2 linked regions of the Homo sapiens genome follow. The protein of the gene in region 1 purifies or fractionates together with the protein of each later gene. This does not show direct contact. Each region holds a gene or a part of one and is shown on either strand. Other genes may lie near its edges.

The links. The genes of interacting proteins can lie anywhere in the genome.
Region 2: the proteins of HEATR3 (region 1) and EXOG purify together in Homo sapiens (co-immunoprecipitation; 2 studies listed by BioGRID and IntAct, with this or other methods). This does not show direct contact.

The regions. Positions count from the first base shown.
Region 1 is NC_000016.10:50,071,715-50,076,860, reverse strand, and holds part of HEATR3 (HEAT repeat-containing protein 3), read right to left. Parts: intron 4,257-5,146; coding exon 4,147-4,256; intron 1,291-4,146; coding exon 1,150-1,290; intron 1-1,149. UniProt on the Homo sapiens protein: Plays a role in ribosome biogenesis and in nuclear import of the 60S ribosomal protein L5/large ribosomal subunit protein uL18 (RPL5). Required for proper erythrocyte maturation.
Region 2 is NC_000003.12:38,505,975-38,510,743, reverse strand, and holds part of EXOG (nuclease EXOG, mitochondrial isoform 1 precursor), read right to left. Parts: intron 3,891-4,769; coding exon 3,776-3,890; intron 1-3,775. UniProt on the Homo sapiens protein: Endo/exonuclease with nicking activity towards supercoiled DNA, a preference for single-stranded DNA and 5'-3' exonuclease activity.

The sequences.
Region 1 (5,146 bases):
AGGTGTGGTGGTGGGTGCCTGTAATGCCAACTATTCAGGAGACTGAGGCAGGAGGATCGCTTGAACTCAGGAGGCAGAGATTGCAGTAAGCTGAGCTCGCACCACTGCGTTCCAGCCTGGGTGACAGAGCAAGAGTCCGTCTCAAAAAAAAAAAAATTAACTGGTCCTGGTGGCATGCACCTGTAGTCCCAGCTACTTGGGAGGCTGAGATGGGAAGATCACTTGAGCCCAGGAGGTGGAGGCTGCAGTGAGCCAAGATTGCACCACAGCACTCCTGCCTGGGCAACAGAGGAGGACTCTGTCTCAAAAAAACCCAAAACGATTAAGACGGTAAATTTCATGTGTATTTTTCCACTATTAAAATAAAAAAACAGGCCAGGCGCAGTGGCTCATACCTGTAATCCCAGCACTTTAGGAGGTCAAGGTGGGCAAATCACCTGAGGTCCCGAGCTCAAGACCAGCCTGGCCAACATGGTAAAACCCCGTCTCTACCAAAAATACAGAAATTAGCTGAGCGTGGTGGCGCACGCTTGTAATTCCAGCTACTTGGGAGGCTGAGGCATGAGAATCACTTGAACCTGGGAGGTGAGGCTGCAGAGCCAGCCACCGCACTCCAGCCTGGGTGAAAGAGCCAGACTCCATCTCAAAACAATAAAAAATAAAAAAAGTAAAAAAGTAAAAAAAAAATCTCTCAACATAAATTATCTCTGCAAGACAAAGGGCAAGAAGAAAATAGATACATAAACTAAATAAAGTACATACTAAACAGACCTTCAGATAATTTCTTACTTCTGTATTCAGACATTCTGCAGAGAAAAGAGTTGGTGGTTAAAAAAAAAAAAACTTATGGAAAACTAAGTGGTCAATTTCTGAAATCACTGGTTCATAAATAAGTGGGGATCCTGACAACAGCATCTCTTTATCAGGTTAACAGTAGTTTGTTAAATTCGAAACAAATCTATTCTACAAGGATTTACAACTATAGACAACTGCTTGAAGTAAGGGTCTCTTCTCAGATATTAAAATTTTCAGAACAGATAAAAGCACAGAAGACCTAATGTGTTGAAATGAATGACTAAATTTTGCCCCCACCACATCCATACCAAAAGCTACTGAAACAATATACTATGCCGTAAGGCTAAATTTTACCTGCTACCAATGTCTTCAATAGAAGAGATTCCATGGAACTGACAGGAGAAAGCAGTGCTGATTCCAGCATGTTCAATGCTGTAGCACTGAAAGACTTCAGCAGCTCTGGGTTATCCTCAGTCACTGTCTGCAAACAATATGCTACGAGGCAAAAAATAAGTATTTAGAAACAAATGAATTCTGCTTTGGATAATTTACACCAGTATAACTCATCAATAAAACATTGTATCATTACCACTTCATTAGACACATGTAGGTTTTGCAAAATATATATGCTTTATCTCAGGGTGATATGCGCAAATGAGGCTTCCCAAACTATCAGTGCTGGAAAAGATCATGTTTCTTTTCTTTTTAAATTTCTAATCCTGTACAGATCTATACTTTTTTTTTTTTTTTTTGAGACAGTCTTGCTCTGTCACCCAGGCTGGAATGCAGTGGCGCATCTCAGCTCACTACAACCTCTGCCTCCCAGGTTCAAACGATTCCTGTGCCTCAGTCTCTCAGGTAACTGGAATTAAAGGTATGCGCCATGATGCCTGGCTAATTTCTATATTTTTAGTAGAGACAGGGTTTCACCATGAAAGCCAGGCTGGTCTGGAACTCCTGGTCTCAAGTGATCTGTCCGTTTCGGCCCTTCAAAGTGCTGGGATTACAGGCATGAGCCACCATGCCCAGCCAGATCTACACTTTTTACAAAATACAATTAAAAAGACTCTTTTATTTTTTTTTTGAGATGGAGTCTCGCTCTGTCGCCCAGGCTAGAGTGCAGTGGCACAATCTTGGCTCACTGCAAGCTCCGCCTCCTGGGTTCACACCATTCTCCTGCCTCAGGCTCCCGAGTAGCTGGGACTACAGGCACCCGCCACCATGCTTGGCTAATTTGTTGTATTTTTAGTAGAGATGGGGCTTCACCTTGTCAGCCAGGATGGTCTCGATCTCCTGACCTTGTGATCCGCCCGCCTCAGCCTCCCAAAGTGCTGGGATTACAGGTGTGAGCTACCACGCCCAGCCTAAAAAGACTCTTAAATGCGGCAATGTCGTTACTATAAATGTTTATAAAAGTTTATCCTCAGGCCGGGTGCGGTGGCTCATGCCCGTAATCCCAGCACTTTGGGAGGCTGAGGCAGGAGGATCACTTGAGGTCAGGAGTTGCAGACCAGCCTGGCCAGCATGGCAAAACCCCATCTCTACTGAAAACACAAAAATTAGCTAGGCATGGTGATGCACGCCTGTAATCCCAGCTACTTGGGAGGCTGAGGCAAGAGGATAGCTTGAACCCGGGAGGCGGAGGTTGTAGTAAGTCGAGATTGCGCCACTGCACTCCAGCCTGGGTGACAGAGCTGAGACTCCATCTCAAAAAAAAAAAAAAAATTTTACCCTCAATTTATGTACTTATCAAGGACCAGTAGCAAACAGCCTTAGGTTTTGGGACGTCTGGCTTCCTTTAAATTTATCATGACCTTCAAAGTTAGGGTTATTTCTGGCAGAGCAATAGCTCTTTAAGAAAAAAAGTAGTTTATATAAAAGTATGAGCAAATTAAGAGATGTGTAAAATATTAAATCATGCCCATCAAAATTACTCAAAATGCATGCTACTGCTGTGGTTGATGATACATTTATATGGAAATCCACATATATGCATTTCTGTACATATATCCAAATGTAATATCTTTGTCATTAAGAAACTAATTAAATTTACTTTAGCCAACAGCCATGACTGCTACCATACAGGTTCAAAAAAAGTTATATGAATACATGGGATGGAATCTTATAAGTTCATTTTACTATATGTAAGCATTGCTTGACTTTAGAAGCAAAAGTAATAATGTATTTTAAAAAATCATTAATCTAGCTACATGGAGAAGGAAAACACTATTATACAATGCAAAATGACTATTCTAATCCATTTCAAAAACGCTCATTAAGGGGAAGAAAAACTAAAAACAGAAATAAATCTATAAGACTAAAGGCACAAAAATAGAAGTGATTTTTCTTGTAAAAGATATGAACTAACTTTCCTGAAGTTCTCTTATTGTAACAAAAACTGTCCTCTGAGATTAAGTCACCTATCAATTTCCTAAAAATGGCTGAATCGTTTTTAAAATCCCCATTTACTCACAACTCTCCAGCCCCACCAAGATTCCATTTAGAGAAATGATTTTTAAAATTTTCTCAGTAGTATTTATTCTACTATTTTCCCTCAATTCTGTTCTCTTAAAAATATCCATTAGAGTCAAGAAAAACAGCAGTCAGGGGAATACACTTCTTCCTCCCCAGGAGAAATGCAGTTCCACAAAGGGACAGCTGGATGCCCGCAGTAATGATCGGTAGAAAAGAAATGCTCTCCCTCAATTGTTTCTCCACTCCCACCCAGAATTCTGCTGAGTTGCCTATGCTCTGACTTCTGCCTCCTGCCACTGAGCTGAGGGTCCCCAGTGGTTCCCCAGCCCAATAAAGAGAAGGCGAGGCAGCCAAAGCCACTGAAGTTGCTGGACTTTGCCTTCCCTGTCTCATGGAAGGCATGAAGGCCTAAGTGGAATTTCAATCATTTCTTTTCCTCTTTTTCTCTCAACAAAACTCAGGCCGTCAGTTTTCTGCTGGACGTATGAGATAGTAGCACAATACATTTAAATAAGTTTAGATTCCAATTAACTGGCTTAAAGGCCTGGTAGTTGTGCGTTACTGTTTCTTAGTAAATGGAGATGAAAACTTCAAGAATTAATAAAGGCTGCTAAGAATGGAAACAGGCTAGAAACCACATATCCTCACATAATTACCTTTCTCCCTTTCAGAGTCAAAAGCAGAAAAACTGAATGAGTAGGTAAAGAATTAATATTAATCACAGATTTAAGACCCAGAAAAAACAGGTGCTGAGCTACACATTCACATACAACGAAACAAAAAATCACTCCAGTGGAATAAACACGCCAAAGCTGCATAAAAATTTTTGAATAAGGCTACACATTCTTAATAAGTCATCACCTTTTCTTCACTTACCTACTGAAATAGCCAGGTCAACATTGGTAGGAAACCTACTTAAATACTTTAACACAATCTCCAAACACCCTTCTTTGTTGAATATAGACACTGCTCTACTACTGCATTCACTAAATTGAAGGGGGAAAAAAAAGTTTTACTATTCACATTTTAACAGTAGGAAATCAACCATAGCAATCCATAAAAAAACAAACGAGGCTTTATAAACCAAGGAGTTGGAATCAAACACCCACCATTTTTATCGATGAAGGAACTAACACCCATTCACATTCACTGTACATGAGAACTGGCTATCTATATTTTATTTCTATCACAATGGGACCTTTTCATCAATCTCTTTGCCATGATGCCAGTTTCCTTATAGAAGGTTAGAGCTGGAAGAGATCTTGTAAATCGTTTAATTCAACTCCCCATTTTATAAATGTGAAGACCCAGGCCCCAAGTGGTAAAGTGGCCCATCAAAGAGCACACATTTTGTTAGTGGTAGAGCCAGGCCCAGTACCTAGGTTCCCTGGGTCCAGGCTACTGTTTTTTCTTTCCTCCATACCACAATGATAACAAGTTAAAGGAGGATAAAAGGCCTCTATATTTATCACACAAAAACACAAATTTATTTTTTATTTTTTAACCTACTATATTTTAGAACATTAACAAAAACACACATTTAAAGGAAAATAAAATTATATTTTATTCAAGCCTTTTAGAGTGCAATTATAATTTCATCAAGCAGAATTTGCAGTCTACAATAGAGAAATTACAATAAGTATTTTTTAAATTATACTACCTTTTAATAAAAGACTCAGCTTTCAGTGTTATGAATAAGCAAACACATTAAATACGAGTTAACAAGGCTAATTGTAATAATTGTATCCATGTTTCCAGAGGAAATATCCATGTTGTACATGTTTCCTCCATACATATAACATACACACATGACACGCTAACAGAGCTGACTAAATTATTAAACTAAATCTGTTATGTAATGAAAAATATTTCATAT
Region 2 (4,769 bases), on another chromosome or scaffold:
CTGATAAACTATTTTAATATATCTTTTAATATTTTATTTAAATATCTATATAATATTTAATATATAATTTTAAAATTCTGAATTAATTAAAAGCTTAGCATTTGTAAGAACAGCACAAAGAACTCCTTCCTTTATATCCTTCACTCAGATTTACCAATTGTTAACATTTTGTTCTATTTGCTTTATCACTCTCTTCTCTTTTCCCTAAACTTTTTAAAAGTCACAGGCACACCATTTTACTCCTAAACACTTCAGGATATGACTTCCTAAGAGCAAAGATATTTACTTACATATCACAGAACAATTTTAAAAATCAGGAAATTTAATACTGAAAATACACAATTATCTAATTTGTATATTAGATAACAGACCTCGAATGTTGCCAATTCTCCCAATAACATCCTTTTTAGCAACTTTTTTCTGGTCTAGGATCTAATCTAAGATCATACTACACATTTTGTTTGCATGACTCTTTAATCTATTAATCTGGAACAGATAGTTTCTCAGCCTTTGTCTTTTATGACACTAACACTTTTGTAAAGTAGAAGTCAGCTGTTTCACAGAATGTCTCTCAATTGGGGTATGCCTGATATTTTATCCTGCTCAGTGCATCACACCAGGAGTACAGCGTTTCACTAAGTCCCATTACTAGCAATACTAAACTTGATCACTTGGGTAATGGGATGTTTCTTCACTGTAAAGTTATTTCTTACTTTGTGATTAATAAATAATGTATGAGGAGATACTTTTAGATTATGTAAATACCCTATTCCTCATAAAACATTCACTCACTAGTTTTAGCTAGTGATGACTCTTGCCTGAATCAATTATGGTGATGTGTGCAAAATGATTTGTATAACTCTTTCATTCTCGCAAATTTATTAACTGACATTCTATGGTATGCAGAAGCTTTTCTTTACACCCTATGTATTTACATATTTATTGAGTATGTATTCTTATTTAATTCAATAGGTTTATAATCCATTTTATTTTGATATTCAATAGCACCAGATACAGTAAGTGGGAGCTCCTTCAAGCTGATTCACATGTCCTTCTGACATATCCCCACCATTTGTCTGAGCACTTCCTTGGCTTTCTGATATATGATGTTCCATTTTGTACTCTCCCTGTACCACCCCTTAAATCAGTCATTTCTCTAAGCGCTGAGTCTTTTCAGGAGATGCTTTTTAGAAACAAATATCTGGGTCTCAAGATGTGTTCATTGCTAATGACATACCAATTCTTCTGGGCCTTTTCAGCAGAAACAACTAGAAGATATATTTTTATCAGTTCTATTTTTAAAAATTATATCCAACTTAAGAAAAACAATACATTTTCCACTACGGCATTTGGGCAACACATATTTTACAGAAATAGCCACACAAAAATCTATGTAGTGAAATGCTTGTAATTATTGGTTAATTTTTCGTTTTAAACATTGTACAAATTTTTGTTCTACTACACAGTAGGCTAGTGATATAAATTTTTCAATTTTATAAAAACAAAGCACAAATAAAACTGTAATTTAACCATTTAAGATATACAAGTCAAAGCTAGAAGAGCCTCTTTTCTGACATAAAATAAACAGGATTTAACAAAGACCAAGAATAATTAATATTTGAAAAATAATACAGGGGGCTTTAAGCCTTTTTTTCTCCTAAGACTATAAAATATACTAAAATTAAATTAGCAAGTTAATCAGAGGAGAGAAATTAATATGGGAGGAGAGATATTAAATGAATTAATTTTAAAATACTAATTCCTTTGACTTCCTTCACTCCCATATCTACTGGAATTTTCCAAGGATGTACAAATCCTTGAAAACAACTACTCTATCATTTCCACTTAACAAAAAGAAGTAGTTGGGTCATAATTTTGTGTGGAAAAAGAGAAAGTGGGCTATTCATATGGACCTATACAAATCCTTGGATGCTTGGACATTACTGCACATCTGATCTAGACAGGCTGATAATAAGCAAGTCAAATGGACAGAATATACTCTAAAAGTTTTGGTTTTTTTTTGGGGGGGGGGTGGTTCCTCAATCTGTTCCTCAGGTTATTAAATTTTATCACAGACTTAAGTAATCATTTACCTAACCAGCATTTATTAAATATCTACTTTATTTCCAGAGCTGAGCTAGGTGTTCCCTCCCCTCCTCTTTGGCCTTATTAGCAAGTCCTTCAGTGCTTCTTTTTACTCACTCTACCACCTCTTCTGCTTCACTCCACCTGTTCCCTGCCCTCTGTAAGCCTCACAGTATAGTATAACATTTCAGCCACCCTCTTGGAAGAATCCTCAGGATATTTCTGCATGATAAGATTAAATGTTAAACTTTTTCTAAGAACACCTGCTCTTCAGGTATACCACTTTGTAAATTGCCAATATGAAAGGCTAGCTAAGAATTTCCCAGCAACATTAGATGTCTGAAGCTCTCACACCACTAATTACACTCTCCTATCTTTAATCTCTCTTTCAGTCTATAAAAGTGCTCACATATCTTGCATATTAAAAAAAAGAAGCTTCTAGAAGAAAAGCTTTTCTTCCCATTTATTCAACTCACTGTAACACTGTAATCTGGTTGTTTTTATTTTATTTTTATTTTTATTTTTTTCGAGGTGGAGTCTTGCTCTGTCGCCCAGGCTGGAGTGCAGTGGTGCGATCTCGGCTCAGTGCAACCTCCGCCTCCTGGGTTCAAGCGATTCTTCTGCCTCAGACTCCCAAGTAGCTGGGACTACAGGCACACGCCACCACACCCAGATAATTTTTGTATTTTTAGCAGAGACGGGGTTTCACCATATTGGCCAGGCTGGTCTCGAACTCCTGACCTCGTGATCGCCTGCCTCGGCCTCCCAAAGTGCTGGGATTACAGGCATGAGCCACTGAGCCTGGTCTGCAATCTAGTTGTTATCCTGGAACTTCTCCCTCTTCCTCACTCAAACAAGTTATTTATTCATGGTTACTCTTTCCTGTGTTCCTCTATTATTCCTCACTCCAACTGCTTGTATGTCCTAACTCATCTCCTTGCCTCTAATCTCTTCTTCAAATGCTCCCTTTTCCCACCTATCTCTTTACACGCTGCTGCCAAAATACTCTTTATAAAACCCAAATATCATATTTCTCCCACGCTTAAAACAAATCTATGACTTCTTAGTGCCTAAAAATTAAAACCCAAGTCTTCATCATAGAATAGAAAGTCGCATATTATCTCACCCGTCCACCTGTTGTTATGGAACTCTTCATACCCCTTGAGCCACCCACACTGTTTTGTACCATAAGCTCCAATTTTTATGAATGATATATAAATCTCAAAACCCTGATGTTGACCACAAATGTCCTGTGCTCATCCTGCTCCATCCTCTGGAATCCTCAGGGTCCACTCCTGACTCTTATCTGTCAAGGTATAGCTCAATATCACTTCCTCTTTTAAGCGTTCCTGACTCATATGAGTAGAGCCCATCAGTCCTTTCACAAGACCACACTGTGTGTGTTTACCTCTATTACAGCATGTCACACTTTAATGTAATTAATTGTTAACATCTGTTTTCCACTCTAAACCGTGAGTTCCTTGAAGTCAATAGTTGCTTTTATCCATCACTATATTCCCTATGCCTATCATTCCTAATAGGTGTTCAATAAATATTGTTGAATAAGTGAAATTAAAAAGTAGAATGCAAAATTTTTTTTGAATGATAAAAATAAAAATAAAAAGCAGAATGGAAAGTGAGATTATAATCTCATACAGATAACATAAACCTGACTATTAAACATCCTTACCTGGTAACTAACTATTTTCTTTCCATCGCCTCTAGTCTGAGGTAAGGTCAAAGGCCCAGATACCACCCAAACATCTTCAAACCTTTCTGTCAGCTCTCGACAGTACATTTCTATTCTGAAAAACAAATAAAAAAATGTATGATATTCTCACATATATACATGTAAGACAGCAGCAAATCATATCAATTCCTATGAAAGATACCAAGAAAAACTGCATTTGAGAAATTAAACAAGAACATGGCACAAAACATTATAAGCATATAAACAATTATTTTCCCAGTTTGCTTACTGCACAGAAAAAACTTAAAAATCACATACACTAACAAAACTATCTACATTTTTCTTTATGTGCGCTCAGAGTACATTCTGGAATTCAAATTTCATGAACTTAAAACTTTTTTTATGCCATAGTTCCCAACCAGCTTTCAAGAATTATGTATCATTCCAACAAGATGATATACTTTATTTAACCATTCCTCTTGCAGGACAATTGGGCTTATGTTAACATTTCTTATATAATGCAACGTTGTATCAATTCCTTAGGATAAATTTCAAGGACCAGAATTACTGAATGAATTTATTTTAAAGACTCGTCATCATATGTAAAACTAACATTTTTAATAGGGTTATATCAATTTACTCTATAAGCTTTTAATAGGGTTATATCAATTTACTCTAAAAAATTAAAATACAACACAGCAGTTTCACAACAATCTTTATAATGCTGGGATTTATCATTTAAAATCTGTTTTTGTCAACTTACCAGATAAAAATGGCAAGTATTTTTTTTTTCTTTTTTTTAGATGGAGTCTCACTCTGTCACCCAGGCTGCAGTGCAATGGTGCAATCTCAGCTCACTGCAACCTCTGCCTCCCGGGTTCAAGTGATTCTCCTGCCTCAACCTCCCGAGTAGCTGGGATTACAGGTGCCCAAATGGCAAGTAGTTGTAATATGTACTTTCATATACATATGAAAGTATGTATATGACTGCAGT